2 linked regions of the Homo sapiens genome follow. The protein of the gene in region 1 interacts with the protein of each later gene in a pairwise test. Each region holds a gene or a part of one and is shown in the gene's direction. Other genes may lie near its edges.

Region 1 (3,820 bases):
AAACAGTATTTTCTAGGTCTCCACTGGTTCTTTATATATAAGATTATGTCATATGCAAGTCGAGATAATGTGACTTCTTCCTTTACAATCTGGCTGCCTTTCATATCTTCTTCTTGCATTGGTATTGCATTGGTTGATTTTTATATGTTGAACCACTGTCGTGGATTGAAAAATGTCTCCCAAAAGTTTGTCCAACTGGAACCTCAGAATGTGACCTTATTTAGAAATAGGATCTTTGCAGATGTATTAATTATGATGAAGCCATCTTGGAGTAGGGTTGGCCCTAAATCCAGTGCCTAGTGTCCGTATAAGAAAGCCATGTAGAGACACAGGCACACACAGAAGGAAGATGGCGATGTGGCAATAGAGGCAGAGATTTAAATGATGCAGCTAGAAGCTGAGGAGTGCCAAGGACTTCCAGCAACCACCAGAAGCTAAGAGAGAGACATGGAACAGATTCTTCCCTATACCCTCCTAAAGGAACCAACTCTGCCAGCACCCTGATCTCGGACTTTCAGCCTCCAGAACTGTGAGAGAATAAATTTTATGTTGTTTTAAGTCCCCCAGTTTGTGATAGCACCCTTAGGAAGCTAATAAAACCTCCTTACATTCCTGGGATAAATCCCACCCGTTCATGGTATGTGATCAGTCCCCTTCATATACTCTTGGATTGGGTTTGCTAGTATTTTGTTGAGGATATTTGCATGTATTTTCATAAGGGATGTTAATCTGTGGTTTTCTCTTCTTGTGATGTCTTTGTCTAGCTTTGGTATCAGGATACAGCTAGCCTCATGGAATGAACTAGGAAGTATGCCCTCCTCTTCTAGTTTTTGGATGACCCATCATCTCTTACCTCACCTACAGCAGGAACCTTGAAATTGGACTTCTGCCTCACACCCTGCAATCTCATCTCCACATTATGACCAGAGTGATCTTCTTTTTTAAAAAAAACTTATTGTTACTATTTCAATTGATAAATGAATTGTATATATTTATGGTGTACAACGTGGTATTTTGATTGTGTACACATTGTGGAATGGCTAAATCAAGCTAATTAACACACCATTTTTTGTGGTGAGAACACTTAAAATCTACTCTCAGCAGTTTTCAGATACAGACTACATTGTTATTGACTGTAGTCACCATGTTGTACAGAGTGATCTTCTCAGTGGACAACTCTGTGCACATCCCTCAGAGCCGCAAGGCAGTGATATCCAGGTTCCTGAACAGGGTCTCCAAAGCCCTCCACCCACGGGTCCTTTCCTTCCTGTCTCGCCACATCTTCCAGGTCCATGTCTCAGCTATGTGAGGTTCTTTTCAGTTCCTTAAGCACATCCCACTGTTAGCTCAGAGATATGTTGCAGTCCTAACTCCAAGTACCTATAAATGTGGCCTTATTTCACAATAGGGTCTTTGTAAATGTAATTAAGTTAGGATGTGGTCATATTGAATTGGGGGGTGGGGGTTAAGCCAAATGACTGTGTCCTTAGAAGAAGAGGAGAAGAGACAGACACAGACAAAGGAAAGAAGGTCAGGTGGAAATGGAGGCAGAGATCAGAATGATGTGTGTATAAGCCAAGAACACCTGGGACTATCGGAACCTGGGGCAGCCAAGGAAGGATCCTCCCCTAGAGTGTTCGGAGGAAGCATGGCACTGCCGATACCTTGAATTCAGACTTCCAGCCTCCAGAACTAGGAGAGAATAAACTTCTGTTGTTTTAAGCCACTGAGTTTGTGGTTCTTTTTCCAGCAGCCCTAGGAAACTCATACAAGGATATAGGAGGTTTATTTGCAGATGAGTTTGTTGCTTCTTTAGTGGTCTGTATCTCATAGCACTAGAAAGAATAGAAAAGTTAATTCCAGATAATGTGATGTATTTGTTTTGTTTTTCGTAGACAAAGGGTGGAGGATATGAAAGTGAAAGTGCTTACCCAAATGCAGAACTTGTGTTCTTGGAGATCCACAACATTCATGTCATGCGAGAGTCACTACGCAAATTAAAAGAGATTGTGTACCCTTCGATCGATGAGGCGCGGTGGCTCTCCAATGTGGATGGGACGCATTGGCTGGAATATATAAGGGTAAAGAGATCCAGCACTTTATATGCTTTCCAGTTAAGACTTCTTTGTGCCTGTGCCATAAATACGTATATCTCCAAGTGCCTCTTGGCTGTGTGCATGAACTTTCTTATTCAATAGTTTCCATGGACAGCATCAGACTGGGGTCTTTGTGGAGGGCTTTTGTGACATAGTGAAAAGGGAAAAATGCTTGCCTTAGGTCAGGCTTTTAAAGAACTTCGTGGCCCTTTAATAAGGAACCATATTTACTCCTGTAGTTTTTCTCCAGTATAAGATTTTTTCTTTTCTTTTTATTTTTTTAATGTGATGCTAATATTTCCTAGTGATTCTCAGCTGATTGCCTGCCATTCTTGCTTGGTTTATTGACCAGAACTTCCAAAGCTCTCCCCAGAATTATTTTACATTGTTTTACATTTAATTGAAATTCAATGTAGCCTGGTCTAATGTGCCTTTTTTTTCTGAAGATGCTGCTTGCTGGGGCAGTAAGAATTGCTGATAAAATAGAATCTGGGAAAACATCTGTGGTGGTGCATTGCAGCGACGGTTGGGACCGAACAGCCCAGCTCACATCTCTGGCTATGCTAATGTTGGACAGTTACTACAGGACCATTAAAGGATTTGAAACTCTCGTAGAAAAGGAGTGGATAAGCTTTGGACACAGGTTTGCACTGGTAAGTTCAGACAGTGAGGTTTATGCTGGACTGTTTTGCGGTATCATATGGATGTAAACGTCATGTGTGACACACGTAAGCGCATATATACACACACACGTGCAGGCTTTCTCTTCTGTATCATATCAGACCTGAATTGCCATAATAAAATACATGGACCTCAGGCATTGTATGTTCCTCATAGGGCGTTTTTATTTTAGTGTATTTATGCCTTTTTAAAAAATTGAGGTAAAATTCATATAACATAGAATTAACCATTTAAAATGCTCAATTCGGTGTCCTTTAGTAAATTCACAGTATTATGTAACCATCACCTCTAGTTTGAAAACATACTCTGGCCAGGCGCGGTGGCTCAGGCCTGTAATCCCAGCTCTTTGGGAGGCCCAGACAGGCAGATCACCTGAGGTCAGGAGTTCGAGACCAGCCTGGCCAACATGGTGAAACCCCGTCTCTACTAAAAATACAAAAATTAGCCAGATGTGTTAGCGGGCGCCTGTAGTCCCAGCTACTGAGTAGGCTGAGGCAGGATAATTGCTTGAACCTGGGAGGCAGAGGTTGCAGTGAGCCGAGGTCATGCCACTGCACTCCAGCCTGGGCAACAGAGCAAAACTCCGTCTCAAAAAACAAAACAAAACAAAAACCGTACTCTTCACCTCAAAAGGAAATGCTGTACACATTAAACAGTCATTCCTCACTTCCCCCAGCCCCTGACAACCACTAATATTTCTGTCTTCATATACATTTGCCTTTTCTAGGTACTTCATATAAGTGGAATCCTACAGTATTTGTCCTCCCATGACTGAGTTACTTCACTAAGCATAATATTTTCAAGGTTCATCCATGTTGTGACAAATATCAAATTTTCATGATTTTTTATAGCTGAATAGTATTCCCTTGTGTGTATATACCACATGTTGTTTATCTGCTCATCTGCTGATGGATGCTTGGATTGTTCCCACCTTTGCTATTGTGAAGAATACTGCGTGAATGTTAGTATATAAGTTTTTGCCATAACAAGGTACCACAGACTGCATGGTTGAAACAACAGAAATTAATTTTCTCATAATTCTG
Region 2 (3,820 bases), on another chromosome or scaffold:
TCAGTGTAGGTGGCTTCATTTTCCACTGGGGTGGTACCCTGCTCTTCTCCATGGACACGAAGGAGAATCGTGTACTCTGTCTTTAAAAAAGTAGAACTTTTGATGTTTGAGACCGCTGGTCGCCGTGTCGGGTGGGGAGTGGTTGTGAGCAGAAAAAATAGTAAATCAAGGAGTAGATAGCTTCTATTTATGTGTGTTACGTTTGATTCAGGAACACAATGTACCTTTCATTCCGTCAACAAATATTGAATGCCTGCTGCACACCAGGCACTGTTCTAAATGCTTCCAAGTCCAAGTGCCTGGTCCCCTTTCTCCATATGTAGTAAATAATTATTATGACTAATAAAAAATCCATCACATACTCATTATTGGTTCCCCTGTTTAATCACCTGTAGTCTTTGAACATTTTATTTCCTATAGAGCACACTTGGGGGGAAAAAAAGCTAAGGAGAATGCCACCATCACCCCAAAACTTAAAAGGTCTGAGAATAGACAGGCATTGGCCGACACGATAATGGAATGGGGAAGCAACTGTAGAATCAAAACAGGGCCGTTTTGGAATTGCGATGACTAAGGGAGGAAATGACAGGGGCCTGAAGGGGAAATAGCTTAAAAGGAGGAAGGTGGGAGGCTGGTAAGAGAGCTGCCACGGAGGGGGAGATTAGAACACTCCAACTTGAGTTGCAAAAAAAGGAAATACATTTTTTAGGAACCATTTCCAAACATAACGCCTATGAAGTGTTTGTTCAGGGGAAGAGCAGCCTTGTACACACACCTACGAAAAGCATAGTCGACACTGAGAAGACTGAGAAGAATATGCGTGGCCTCTTGTTCCTGGGAAAGCATCCCCAGCTCTCAGTGTGGGAGATCCTGCACTTCCCCCACACCACCCCCGCTCAGGCTGGAGTACAGTGGCACAATCTCAGCTCAGTGCAACCTCAGCCTCCTGGCTTAAGTGATCCTCCCACCTCAGCCTCCCAAGTAGCTGGGGCTTCAGGCATGCACCACTGTGCCCGGCTAATTTTTGTATTTTTAGTAGAGGTGGGTTTTTTTTCACCATGTTGCCCAGGCTGGTCTCGAACTCCTGTTTTTAAGTGATTGGCCCACCTCAGCTTCCCAAAGTGCTGGGATTACAGGCGTGAGCCACCGTGCCCGGCTAGGCTCTGCACTCTTAAAACTCCTCTAGGAGGCCAGGCACAGTGGCTCATGCCTGTAATCCCAGCACTTTGGGAGGCCAAGGCAGGTGGATCATCTGAGGTCGGGAGTTCAATACCAGCCTGACCAACATGGAGAAACCCCATCTCTACTAAAAACACAAAAATTAGCTGGGCTTGGTGGTGCACGCCTGTAATCCCAAATACTCAGGAGACTGAGGCAGGAGAATCGCTTGAACCCAGGAGGCGGAGGTTGTGGTGAGCCGAAATCACGCCATTGCACTCCAGCCTGGGCAACAAGAGCGAAAACTCCATCTCAAAAACAAACAAACAAAAGAAAGCTCCTCTAGGAGATGAGTGTGGACTGTGAAAAAGTTATTCACAGGCAATTTGAGGCCACCTACCTGGCCACTCAGAGAGTTTCTCCACGAGTTTATGTTAGTGAATGTATTGTTCTTTTCCTTTGAACAACTGCTTCACCTTATCATCAAGAGCAGCTTTTGTTTGCTCTACATGTTCTGGACAGCCCAGGCAGTCTGTCTTTTGTGGGGTTAGGGAGGGACAGGGGGCAAAAGAGCAGTAGGGTCATCCCTGTGTCTTGGAGGTGTTTGCCATCTGGTTAACAGTAAGTGAAAAGTGCTTTGTGGAATGTTCACTTTGGGTTCAGAAATTTTCTTTTAGAGACAGGGTCTCACTTTGTCACCCAGACTGGAGTGCAGTGGCGTTATCATAGTTCACTACAACCTCAAACTCCTGGGCTCAAGCAATCCTCCTGCCTCAGCCTCCCAAGTAGCTGAGACTACTGGTGCACGCCACCATGCCCATCTAATTTTTTTTTTTTTTTTTGTAGAGATGAGGGGCTCTCCCTATATTGCCCAGGCTTGTCTCGAACTCCTGACCTCAAGCAGTCCTCCTGCCTCAGCCTCCTAAAGCACTGAGATTACAGGAGTGAGCCACCACACCCGGCCCAGGTTCAAAAGTGAGAGTCTCCCCACGGTTGAAAGGGGAATAGAAGCACAAGAGTCAGTAATCAATAACAAACAACTCAAGGTGCTCCTTCCTTACACTGGTGTTCCCCAAAGTGAGGTGAATTGCCAGCCACTGGGAGTCAGGGCCAGTTACATAAGACATTCTCGGTAAGCCCCCTTTGGGTATCCCAAATAAGGACTGGGGTGGGTTTATGTGTAGTCCATTATTAACAACTAAACGAACAAACCTAGTGAATTGCAATAAATTCACACCAACAGAACAAAAGAAGAAAAGCTTAAACAAAAGAGTGGCTCCTTGCTTTCCTGAAGCACCTCTAAAAATGACCATAGAAAGATGGAAAAGTTTGGTGAACAAGCCTGAACCTTCACTCATTTCTCTGTCATGCATTAAACAGCTTGAGCCAGCTTTGAATTCTTCCGGGTCAATCAAATGGAAGTGCCCTGACTGCAGGCATGCCAGAGGATTTCAAGTGTGGTGCACAGAACAGTTTTTGTACAATACTGGTGTATCTTGATTTGCATTCAAACAAACTAAAACTAGCTCATCAAACCTGTAATTTCATGGGTAACATCGCTGAGGGACAGTTGTTTTTTAATTGACTCAATTTGTTATTTTACCTAAAAAATTGTAGTGGCACGTGGATATGACAGGAAGCAGGCAGTTGCTAGACACAAAACCCTTTAGAAACACAGGCTGGGGGCTGGGTGTGGTAGTCCACGCCTGTAATCCCAGCACTTTGGGAGGCTGCAGTGGGAGGATCGCTTGAGCCCAGCTGTTGGAGACCAGCCTGGGCAACATAGCGAGACTATCTCTACAAAAAATTTTTAAAAGTAGCTGGGTTTGGTGGCTCATGCCTGTAGTCCTAGCTACTTGAAAGGCTGAGGTGGGAGGATCGTTCGAGCCCAGGAGTTCGAGGCTGCAGTGAGCTGTGATCGCGTCACTGCAGTCCAGCCTGGGTGACAAAGTGAGACCCTGTCTCTAGAAAAGAAAAGAGAAAAAGAAACACAGGCTTAGACAAAGTTTTCTTCTAATTGGTGTCGGCATAATTGCTTACGACCCATCAAATAACACAAAACTCCTTCTTTCTTTATGCCTTTCCTCACTTTTTTCCTTAAAAAAAGAAAAAAGGAAAGAGGGAAGGAAAGGAAAGGAAGTTAGAGAGAAAAGCACCTGCATGTTATTTTCTCTGTAATCCCTCAGATGGCTTTCATGAACTAAGAGGTAAGAGTAAGAGAAGAATTCATGGGAAATGTAGATTTTGCAGCTGGATGGGAACTTTGGCGATTGCCCTGGGAAGCTATCTCACTTTCAGGTGAAGAAACTGAAACCCAGAGAAGTTCTGTTACTTGCCTCCTCCTTCGGTGGGTTTTTCATGAGCAAGGGTGAAATTGTCAGCCCCTTGACTTGATCCAACAGTTCCCCAAACCAAATATCTTAAGCAATAACTCAGGGACTTAGCTGGCAAGGAATAGACTTGGCGGTGGCAGGCAGTGGCAAGGCTGTGAATGAACACACTACGATCTCTGGAGCACTTTGAGTTGGAGAATGCAGTCTGGTATGACATGGGCCCATCTTGGGCCACATCCATGATAATCAATTATGTGAAGGCCTGAGAGACCTTTATTGTTGCATCATTTCAATCCTGAGCTTAGATCAAGGAAACCAGTCACCTGTTC

What was found.
Region 2: the proteins of MTMR1 (region 1) and CASS4 interact in a two-hybrid assay, tested with the Homo sapiens proteins (one large-scale study listed by IntAct).

Annotation. Positions count from the first base shown.
Region 1 is NC_000023.11:150,734,700-150,738,519, forward strand, and holds part of MTMR1 (phosphatidylinositol-3-phosphate phosphatase MTMR1), read left to right. Parts: intron 1-764; coding exon of another isoform or gene 765-800; exon of another isoform or gene 801-1,002; intron 1,003-1,895; coding exon 1,896-2,081; intron 2,082-2,542; coding exon 2,543-2,749; intron 2,750-3,820. UniProt on the Homo sapiens protein: Lipid phosphatase that specifically dephosphorylates the D-3 position of phosphatidylinositol 3-phosphate, generating phosphatidylinositol. Could also dephosphorylate phosphatidylinositol 3,5-bisphosphate to produce phosphatidylinositol 5-phosphate.
Region 2 is NC_000020.11:56,418,573-56,422,392, forward strand, and holds part of CASS4 (cas scaffolding protein family member 4), read left to right. Parts: intron 1-3,820. UniProt on the Homo sapiens protein: Docking protein that plays a role in tyrosine kinase-based signaling related to cell adhesion and cell spreading. Regulates PTK2/FAK1 activity, focal adhesion integrity, and cell spreading.